Linked DNA regions of Homo sapiens. The protein of the gene in region 3 purifies or fractionates together with the protein of the main gene of each other region. This does not show direct contact. Each region holds a gene or a part of one and is shown on either strand. Other genes may lie near its edges.

Region 1 (3,656 bases), on a different chromosome or scaffold from region 3:
TCTAAGCTCTGACACAGACCAAGTTGTCTCTATCCAATATGTCTTGGGAGTATGGAGAATAAATGGACTCTCTTTCTTTACAGAATCTTAAAACTGGGGATGAGGATTATTCACGGGTGATTTTACTTTATTTTTCAGATGCTCTGTTTCATATCAATACCTGAAATTGCTTTGTAGTCACAATAGTCACACTGGATGCATTTCTTCACTAACAATATCCAGATGTGAAGAGTTTGGGGAAACCCAGGGATCCGCCCCATCCTGAGAGCAGCTGCTGTGCATGAGGCACCGCTCACCTTCTCATAGGGAATCTGCAGCAGCTCCAGCACCACGGCGTGCGCGCCCATGTTCCGGAGCAGACGCTGTTGCTGCTTCCTGCTCTTTCTCACTGAGGCACTCTCTTGAACACAGAGTTTGCTAAGCCGAATCAAAATCTAGTAGAATGAAAGAAATCAGTCTCAGAAAACTAGGAACTATAGCTGGAAAAAGATTGCAGAGGGTGGTGGCGGGCAGGGAGGCAAAGGGGATTATAATGCATTAAAAACGTAAAACAAAATTCCTTCAGTATGTGGCATTTCTGTTGACTCCATCAAGCCAAATCCATAAGACTAAGGTCACGTCTTCCAGAATAAGCAGGGGATTATGGCTTCAACAACAAGTGGGACAGTTTCAGAGATATCGCTTAAAATGGAATGACCTGGCATCATTGCCGAGACCCTGGGAAGAGTTTGCTCTGGGGTAAAACACACAAAGCTCCCAGCCTCCCAACTTTGAACCAGCGTACGCAAAGGTTTCTAAAAAACTACAGCTCTCAGTGGGGACACTGTGTACCAGGCACTTAGATGACTCCCTGACAGTATTCTCAATTAGTCCTTCCTTCAATTGTAAAGCTTCAGAAATATGCGGTGCCTACGAAAGGTTGCACCTACAAAAGGTGAGGAAGCTGAGGACAAAAATAATAAGTAGAAGAGCTGGGTGTGGAGCCCAGATCTGATGCCAAAACCCATGAGCTTAACCTCTGAGCTCTACTTTCTCCCTGTTAAACCACATGAAGAAAAAAGCTCAAATGTGTGTACCTTCAACTTGACTATCACAAACTAAAGCTCCTTAGAGAATTCATAAAGAAAGGAAAAATGGTGGTGGGGGAGGAGCTTACCTCTTTGACCACTCTGTAGTTGTAGCTGCTGGTGCTTTCATGCTTTTGTGGCTTGTTATTTCCCTCCTAGAAACCAAAGTGAACACAAGTGTGATCTGTACAACTCTTGGGCTACTGTCAGTTTTTTACAGTTAGCATCGACCTTTAGGAAAGAAAGGGAGTTCTATACTGTTTTACAATAGTCATGCTGGGCTTATGCCCCAGTCATCTACCTACTTGCTATGGGTTTCCTTGGGAAGGGATAGTAGTGGGCTGGGCCATGCCTAGAGAACAGGTCAATTCCCAAGTGGGTCTGTAAGGGAAACCTGGTGCTAATTCACTCAATATCGCAGTCTCTTCTACATGGTCCAAGGCTGCACAGGAGACATAGCTAAACTTTGATTCGTAGCTTATTTCCTAGGCAAACAGCTTGTGATCTTGGTGACTTAACAAGCAGATCTCTTGAAAATAAATCCTATCACATTTATACCTAAAACCAGAAGAGGATGCTCCCTAGTTTCGAGAAGCCCATCCATCCACTTTGGCAGCATAACTTGTGTTTCACTCACCTCCGTTTTCTTATGTTCATTTTCTCCAGATGCACCATCCATAGTCTCATCGGGGCCCTGCCCTTTGTACACCCAAAGCTCTGACTTTTCCACGATGGACCTCAGTTGATCCAAGTCTTGTTTGATCTGTTTGTAGTTGTCCACATCTTGGCTGGTAACCAGCAGTTGAACCTTAATGAACGCAATCCGTTAGGTGCACACAACAGCTTCTTGGACAGACAACACACACGTGGGTGACCTGAGCTACCTGTTTGAAGGCCTGGAGCACCTCCTGCCTCTGGCTGAAGTGCCGGAAGAGGAGCTGCAGGGCCCCTGACACCAGGGGTGGGTAGTCATGCATCGTCAAGTGGAGCAGGACACGGAGAAAGGTTCTGCCGCCGTGGTCATCCAAGTCCAGTGGGGTGTTCTCCTCACTAAAGGAGCACAAGGTGGGGAAAGGCCAAATGAATGACAAATGCCTCCTCTCACGCCCCTTGGGCCCAGATGCACCTAACCTAGTTGCATTTCTAGCACTGTGATCTCCAGACATGCAATTTCACTTTTCATTAGCTCCTTTAACAATACAGCCTTGCTTCATCTTCAACTATATTATGAGGTGAGGGGACAAGGAAGATGTCATATTAAAAGATAAGTCAAATTTTAAGCCAAAGTGACAAGACTAGCATTAGATTCTCAACATCTACATAGGGTGTTCTTCTGCTGGGCTTCGTCTGTGGTCTGAGAACTGCAAGAGGATGTGTTTCTCCTAAGTTATTAGTTTATGTATTTAGTTTTTAGAGATGAGGTCTTGCTATGTTGCCCAGGCTGAATTCAAACTCCTATGCTCAAATGATCCTCCTGCCTTAGCATACTGAGTAGCTGGGACTATAGGAATGCACTACCATGCCTGACTATATTTAAATATTAATAAGCATATCCTAGATCAAATGGCAGACTACTCCATAACTGAGCACTGCTAGTCAATTATTGGGTCTGCACCTATATTGGGTTTAGAGTCAAATGAATGACAAATGGTGGAAACTTCCTGGTTGCTGGCTAATAAGAAAAGCACAGAGAAGACTTATAAATACTGTATTCATGCTATGTATTCCAAAAAGGTGTGAAGGTTTCAATGCTGTTCACTATGAGGAAAATGGCGGGAGAGCTGAGTGATCACACAGCACATGGAACCTGTATTATGCTAAACTCACAATACCATGTTTAAGTTTCAGAAAAACATCTTCCATCATAGTACATAATGTTGCTAATTCAAATTTCACAGGTTTTATATTAAGCATTGAGGTAGACTATTAACACTGGTGGGCCCCAACAGAGTGTTCAAACCCTTATGTAGTCCCCTCCCACACTGACAATGAGCTTGGCCATGGGATTTGCTTGAACAATAAGATATTAGGAGATGCAATGCAAGCAGAGGCCCAATTAGCACTTGCATACTGTTGGCTTGTCCTCTTAGAACATTTGCTTTTTGAGTCAGCCACCGTGCTGTAAAGAAGCCCAAGCTATCCACATGGACAGAGAGAGAAAGAAGTTCTGGCCTTGCAGGCATCTCTGCTATAGTGCCAGAAATGTGAATAATCCAACTTGGAGGTGCCAGCCCCAGTTACCACCTCACTACAGTATGACAGACCCAACAGTGACCACCAGCAGAAGAACCATCCAGCTTAATCAAGCCACAGGACTGTAAGAAGTATTAATAAAATGGTGGTGGTTTGAATCCTTAAGTTTTTTGGAGTAATATGTTATAAAGCAATAATCAAACCAAGTGTGCTAATTATAAGAACTATGTGCATATGGTGTTTATACCAAATTTTATACTTGGAGGTATAAGAGTTCCATAATTATAATAATGTCTTAAGTCAAAATTGACCAGTGCGGTTTTTTTTTAAAGGGGTTCATACATTAATATTAGGAACAATGAAAGACCAGATTTTGCTTTCTTTGTTGCATAGCCT
Region 2 (3,656 bases), on a different chromosome or scaffold from region 3:
AGAATCTTATATGGGCGAAGGTATTAATTGTGTGGTAAGCTAGGTATTTATCAAAAGTAGATATAATTCCTTTTTTTTTTTTTTTTAAAGTAGAGATAATTCCAATAAAAAAATGGACCTTTTAGACATCTGGAGAACAATATCCCCAGGTCACTTAACCCTTATCTCCTGCAGTATAATGCAGTGCGTCCAGCTGATCTACCAAATTGAATGTGTGCCTTTGAATACGAAGCAGTTGTTTTGTGGCCTGTGGCATTTCATTTAGGTTTCTAAGCTGTAATAAATTAGTATGTTAATTTACTTCTTTCCATTCACATATTCTTTAAATCCAAGCCTAGAAACTGATAGTTATATGTATATTAAAATCATTGGAATATTGGTTTTTTTGCAGATAGTGTTTGGGCTGTTTATTATCCATAGCTCTTCATTATGTAAATAGAATCTCAATGCTGATAAAGTAAATAGATTCTTCCATTTCATTAATGGTTATTTTTGATTTATGATAAACTGCATTTAATAAATCTCTTGATTTAGTTAAATGGTGGATACATCATTTCATATTATAGCAAATTGATAAATATAAAAGAAAGTTTTACAATCATAAGAGTAAATATTTAAAAAAACTTGAATAAGTTACTTTACTAAACATAAAATTAAGATTTTTAAACAACTCTGAAACTAAAAGTATTACTATTATGGTACCTTTTTTTTTTTTTCCCCCAAAGAGATGTGATCTTGCTGTTTTGTCCAGGTTGGCCTTGAACTCCTGGGCTCAAGCAATCCTCCTACCTCAGTCTCTTGAGTAGCTGGGACTATAGGCATGTGCTACCACAGCCAGCTTTATTATAGTACTTTTGTACCCTGCATCAATGCTGCTTCTGTTGATACTTTTCAAAGGAGATATCAACTTCTGGTCTTCAACAGTAGTGTAGCATCCTCTTATTGATTCTCTGGCTCATATTTCACTACCGTATAGTATGGAGTTTCTTTCTTGGAGTTTGAATTGTTTTTACATTGCAGCTTGTTATAGTGAAACAATTAAACATATTTAAAAGTAAAAGATATTTACGACTGATTTTTAAAGAACCTGTAAAAAAATCTCCAACAGAAGAATATTATATGGGGATGTGTAGATTTAACATTTTATTTTCTTTAATTTTTTTTTTTTTTTTTTTGAGATTGGGGTTGGGGGTTGTCTCTCTATGTTGCCCAGGTTGGAGTGCAGTAGTGGCGTGATCACGGCTCACTGCAGCCTTGAACTCCCTGGTTCAAGCCATTCTCCCGCCTTAGCCTCTGGAGTATCTGGGATTATGGGTGCATGCCACCATGCGTGGCTAATTATTTTTTAATATTTGTAGAGATGAGACCTTGGTATGTTGCCCAGGTTTGTCTTGAACTCCTGGGGTCAAGTGGTCCTCACACCTTGGCCTCCTAAAATGCTGGGATTACAGGCGTGAGTCACTGTACCCGGCTCCTTTATTTTATTAAAAAGATTTTTGTTTGTTTGTTTGTTTCTAAGTTTAAAAGAGACAGGGTCTTGCCATGTTGCCCAGGCTGGTCTTGAACTCCTGACCTCAAGTGATCATCCCACCTTGGCCTCCCACAGGCGTGAGCTACCATGCTTGGTTGTAAGATTTTTAAAAAATGGATTAGTTTCAAATCTCAACTTCTCTTTCTTTCAACATTCTAATCTCCTGGCATTTTTTTCCTTTCCCCAGCTACCCCCCATCATCCAACAGTCTTCCATTTGGAATAATGGGAAATCAAACCAATAAAGTTAATCTTACCTCCCACCAGGCAAAGGTTTTTCTTAATCTCTACAATATTCTGAACATAAAACCCATATAAACTTTATATGATACTACACATTTTCCTTTTAACGGAGGAAGAGCAAATGGGACCTATGGAATTATGCCGTATTTGTCAATATAAGGGTTACTTTTGTACTCTTACTGAAAGCAGAGTTATAGGGCTAATTTCATTTAAATTTTCTTACCCATCTACTTTAAAAAAATACCTCTTTGTGGTAGTCTTTTTTTTGGTCAGAAAATGACAATGTGAAGGAGAAATACGTTTTGAATTTATAAATCTTCTTTTAATTAACAAATTATACCAATATAAGGGTAGTGTTAATGTGGTTCAAATTTGCCTTTGCTATTCTGCCTTTTCTTCTATAGTGATTGTATAGTTATACTATAACTTCTTCCTCGAAGCACTGGAATAAAAGAAAAACTTTTAAAGATCACTACGAAATGCTCACTGTATTTGTTGTATTTTATAACTTGGGTTTTTAAAATTTATTTTTCCATAAACTGAATAAATATGAAAACGAACTTGAAAGATCTTGTCACAGCCTTGATGACTGGTCAGTATAAAGTTCACATTATAAAATAATAAAACATTGATAATAATCTTAGATGAAAATGGAAAATTAAGCTAATGTTTATTTTAGAACCTGAGTAATGAGTTTATATCATGTAGCAATGAGGCACATGAAGACGGTTAGAATTAGTTTTTCTAATGAATAAACTTCATGATATAAACTTGAAAGTGCATAAATGCTATAACTTTCTGATTGTAAACTTGAACAAAAGTAAAATGAAAATGGGAGAGTCCTCTTAATTACCTTTAACGTATAACTAAAATGAACCTGTGTATCTGTCTAAGTCTTATTTGATCAAGACTTTCAATGGACAATGAATGAGTTTTAAGTTTTTATCAATGTTGTGACTGATTTTTCTATAATATCCCTTAAATGAGATATCAAATTCTAATAATATCTAGAACCAGATTAAATTTGGTTAGAGTATAAACAATATTTACAAACCATCAAAACTATAATAAAAGCATTGTAATGTTATTTAATGACTTAAGCCAACATTCCATAAGCTAATCTAAGCATTTTTACAATTAATACAATTGATAGTAATATCTTAATTAGTGGTAAAGTGGACAGATATAATTTATAGATTCTGTATTGTCTGGGACCTTGGGGCAGTCAGTGAAGAGAGGGAGATAGAGAGAGGAGCATACTGGTTGATGAGCTTGCCTTATTTGGAGATGAAGGAGATTTATTCAGTTTTTCTCTTTCCCTCTACTTACTTCTCCTTGTTTGTCATCCTCTTCTAGCAATGGTAAGAAATGCGGGAATTGACCATCTTTACAGTATACTTTTTTCCTTAGAGTTCATAGAACATTTCCAGGTAAAACATTAGCTTTTATGTTATAATAGGTTTATTATAATGATATCATTTCCTTTTGAGGTGGTAGGCAAGAGACTAGAAGAACTTCATTTGTATAGCATTTAATATTATTTATTAAAAATGATTTTATAGGCCGGGCGCGGTGGCTCATGCCTGTAATCCCAGCACTTTGGGAGGCCGAGGCAGGTGGATCACCTGAGGTCAGGAGTTGGAGACCAGCCTGACCAACATGGAGAAACCTCATCTTTACTAAAAATACAAAATTAGTCGGGCATGGTGGCACATGCCTGTAATCGTAGCTACTTGGGAGGCTGAGGCAGGAGAATCACTTGAACCCGGGAGGCTGAGGCAGGAGAATCACTTGAACCCAGGAGGCGGAGGTTGCAGTGAGCCGAGATCTTGCCATTGCACTCCAGCCTGGACAACAAGAGTGAAACTCTGTCTCAAAAAACA
Region 3 (4,107 bases):
GCTACTCAGGAGGCTGAGAGAGGAGAATGGCGTGAACCCAGGAGGCAGAGGTTGCAGTGAGCCGAGATCTCGCCATTGCACTCCAGCCTGGGCGACAGAGTGAGACTCCGTCTCTAAAAAAAATAAAATAAAATAATAAAAAAAAAGAAAAGAAGGCGTTGTTGAAAGTTTTTTAAGCAGGACAATAACATGATCAGAATTGTACTTTTGAACAATCCCCCTGGTAGGGATGAAAGTTGGACTGGAATAGACTGAAACCAGAGGTACAGACTATTCAGATGCGTTTGTGTTGTCCTAAGGAGATGAAGAGGGCTAACCAGAGCAGCAACACTAATAACGGAAAAAGAGGAGAGGAAGTTGAATGCCACAAAATGAAACTGAAACTTTTGTATTTCAAATGTTTCAACAGTATTCTAGAGGGAAGTAAGATAATGGTGTTCCTCTATTTGCCTCTGACTTCTTGTTAATGAAATAGTACTCATTAAAGTCTTCAGAGTCACAGATATTGTATAGCTGAGGTAAGCATTTTACAACTTTTCAGACACAAGTAAGTACATAAATATTATTTTACAACCAACAATATTTAATATTTCCACATTGAAGAATAGATGTGATAATTAAATCTTTTATAAGGTTTTAAAAAGACATGAAACATAAACCTAATTATACATAAAAGAAAAGAATTTTAAACAAGAGCTTATTGTGATGACATTACTCATAACTTTTACCTTTAAAACCTTTTCTTGGGTAGCTATTCAAAAGTAAAGACCACAAGTTTTGTTGCCCAGATTTCTTATGTTTTGTATATTTAAGCTCTTTATTTATTGAACAGATGTGTCATTAATTCATTTGGAGCATTACTATTATCAGTAAAATTTGATTTTTTTTTCCCCTCAGTCATAGGTAAATCAGCTCCACCTGGAATTTCTAAGGACCCAGTTTTAGTCAATATTTTCAAGTAATCATGACCTCAGAAATAGTCTTAATTAAGATAACAAATATTAGCCATCAAAATGGAACCAAGACAAGATTCTAATGTTTGTAAACAGTCAATCCATATTTATGAATATTAGCATATATTGGTGAATAGTTAAGGCAAAAGGTTCTAGCAGATGTAATCTATTTCCATCAACATGTTAAATGTTATAAAAGTCTAGAATTATTGGTAACATGAAATGATTCCAAAATGGAATTTCTGTGTTACAGAATTTACTAGAAAAGTGCTGTGAAAGTATAATGAAAAATAAAGTGATCCCTTGAAATAATGTGGATAGAACAAGCTTTTGAATATTTACATGGATTAATGAATTATTTGCCAAATTCTCCTGAAGTTATACCTAGTTCCCATTAAATTAATGGACACCGTGTATATGAGCATATACCTTTCTTTAGAACTATGTTTTGTGATAAGTCCATTTTTACTCACAGGAATTTACTTAAACTTGTACATATATTAATTATATATACTAAATGACAATGACCTTATCTGAAACAAATACATTGTATAATATCAAAACGTTTTTAGTCTTTTTTAAAAAGTAAAAAGTAAAAAACAACGTCAGTTACATCATTTACATTTGGTATCCCACCTAATAGAGACACAGCTTTTGAAATCTACAATATTTTACATTTTGGTCATCATTTAATGCTATTTGCATTTCTCTTTAACATTTTAATAGTATTTGTGATATATCATGTTTAACTGAAAGCTTTGGGTTATATATTTTAAAGGAATATCTTACTTTTTGACTAAATAGTTCTGTAAGGGCCTAATATTTGAAAAATTAGCTTGTTACCTGAAGCAACTATCCTCCTTAATCATTTTAAAATAATGGGTAAAGATGCATCTTTGTAAATATATTTTGAAAACTTGGTTAGTGTATTAGAAACAGACACCAGAAATTAAAAAAATTATTTCTAGGACTGGCATACACTACAGTGAATTACTTCAAATGTTACTCTAGAGCATTTTTAAAAATACGCAGAATACTGCTGTTCTCTCTGAGATGATCCCTTTTTACGATGATGAAATTAAACACATTTAAAAAGTCTTTTAAATATTATATATAGCATTCCAGAATTGATGAATTATAAAAATTACAGATACTTCTGTTTGGGTAAAAATCTATCTTTTAGTTTCTGATAGTAAAATAAGCAATCTACCAGCCAGGGTTGAAATATATAGTATTTTAACTACTGTTCTATATATTTCAAAATTCATGTTTTCTATCTGTCCTAGAGAAACTTAGCCTTCTATGAAGTGAATCACTTAATGATATTATTGCTTTGGAGATAAAATTGGCCTCAGAGTATGATAGCCTGTAAGTAAATGCTTCATTACCCACATATCCCTACCCACCCCCCCCAAAAAAACCTACCAGTAGTCTAGTACAGTAGTGAGCAATCTTAAATTAAAAGCTATTGTTCACACAGAGCAGAGGAAGATAATTTTCATGTTAAAGCAGTTTTCAACATCAAACATCTAAGGAGTTATAAACTATAAATGAATTACCTTTAAACCCTGGTCTTCACAGTTACATTGCTTTCTGAATGCTTTTTGGGGTGACATTATGCTACCACATTTTTAAACGGTTTAAATGACAAGTATTTTATATTTCATGAATGATAAATGAACAAGTTTAATTATATAGATATTAGTTCCCTTAGTCTGGGAACCAAAATGCTGTAGGGTTGTTCTGTTGCAAAGTAAATGATATAGATTAAGTTTGTCTCAGAATGAAGATTACCCAAATAATTATAGCCTGAAAAGAGTGATATACCTTCAGATGTGCTTAAATCATGGCCCAAATACAGATTACTTTGTGTAGAATCCAGCCTACTGAATAAATTTTATTATTTTTTTGTTTGAGACAGAGTTTTCTCTGTCACCCATGCTGGAGTGCAGTGGCTCAGTCTTGGCTCACTGCAACCTCTTCCTCTCAGGTTCAAGCGATTCTCCTGCCTCAGCCTCCCAAGTAGCTAGGATTACAGGCATGTACCACCATGCCCGGCTAATTTTTGTATTTTTAATAGAGACAGCGTTTCACATGTTTGGCCAGGCTGGTCTCAAACTCCTGACCTCAAGTGATCTGCCTGCCTTGACATTCCAAAGTGCTGGGATTACAGGCGTGAGCTACCACACCCAGCCAACAATTATTTTTTAAATACAGCAAGTAATACAAGCAATAGAAAAAGTTTCAATAGAAATTAAAAGAATTGTAAATCTAATGTATAATTCTCAATATTGCTAATTGCTTGCAAGTGTTCATTGGATAACAGCATAACAACAAAGGACTCCTTTAAAATGCATTGTTTTTCAGCTTTATTTCAAATGCTGTGTAGCATAAGAACCTAGCCGTCAGACATCATTTTTTAGCTATGAAAAATATGAAACAAGGCATATTCTAAAGTGCTGAAGGAATTAATTGCCCTATTAGATAACGAATACCTGGAGGAATGAACAGAGTGATTTATGGCTTAAAGTGCTTGGGTCTGATCATCATCTTAGCCTCTTTGAAGGAGGACTTGTAGCCACCAGGGTGTGCCTCACTTACACCAGGCCAGGTACCCCAGAAAATCCCATTACGGACACCTCTGTATTTTTGGTGATAATATTTGCCATTTAAGTTTGCAGAAAGACATGCATCAAACCACCAGCCTGAACTGTAGTACAGCCCACAGTTCCCAGAAGGATATCGATCATTGTCTTTATCTGGAGTGGTGAAAAACTTCAGATCGTGGTTGTAATGTTTGTTGAAACGTAATGCATCTCCAGCTGTGCCATTATAGTTACCAACGTGTAAACGATATTTGAGAAACTCATTAGCCACATAAAACTGATCATACAAGGCATATAGTTCGACACCATTAAAGTCTTCAAGATCTATTCTCAGAATCATTTCCTTACTCTTGGTCAGAAGATGAATTTTATCGTTCCCCAGCCAAAATTCCCTTCTGAGGTTTCCAAAGCCTGCTTTGTAGTCTTGCCATGTTCTGGTGAAGTTGGTGCTCCCATCGAGACGTGCCTGCAGCACTGTCCAGCCTCCCCCCATGGTCTCCATGTCACAGTAAACTTCAAAGCTACTATTTTTGGGATCAGGTGTAACT

The links.
Region 1: the proteins of FGL2 (region 3) and ITPR1 purify together in Homo sapiens (affinity purification with mass spectrometry; one large-scale study listed by BioGRID and IntAct). This does not show direct contact.
Region 2: the proteins of FGL2 (region 3) and FUT8 purify together in Homo sapiens (affinity purification with mass spectrometry; 3 studies listed by BioGRID and IntAct, with this or other methods). This does not show direct contact.

What each region holds. Positions count from the first base shown.
Region 1 is NC_000003.12:4,681,847-4,685,502, reverse strand, and holds part of ITPR1 (inositol 1,4,5-trisphosphate-gated calcium channel ITPR1), read right to left. Parts: intron 2,118-3,656; coding exon 1,952-2,117; intron 1,876-1,951; coding exon 1,705-1,875; intron 1,223-1,704; coding exon 1,157-1,222; intron 435-1,156; coding exon 297-434; intron 1-296. UniProt on the Homo sapiens protein: Inositol 1,4,5-trisphosphate-gated calcium channel that, upon inositol 1,4,5-trisphosphate binding, mediates calcium release from the endoplasmic reticulum (ER).
Region 2 is NC_000014.9:65,415,613-65,419,268, forward strand, and holds part of FUT8 (alpha-(1,6)-fucosyltransferase), read left to right. Parts: intron 1-3,656. UniProt on the Homo sapiens protein: Catalyzes the addition of fucose in alpha 1-6 linkage to the first GlcNAc residue, next to the peptide chains in N-glycans.
Region 3 is NC_000007.14:77,192,809-77,196,915, forward strand, and holds the end of FGL2 (fibroleukin precursor), read right to left. Parts: coding exon 3,471-4,107; 3' UTR 561-3,470; downstream 1-560. UniProt on the Homo sapiens protein: May play a role in physiologic lymphocyte functions at mucosal sites.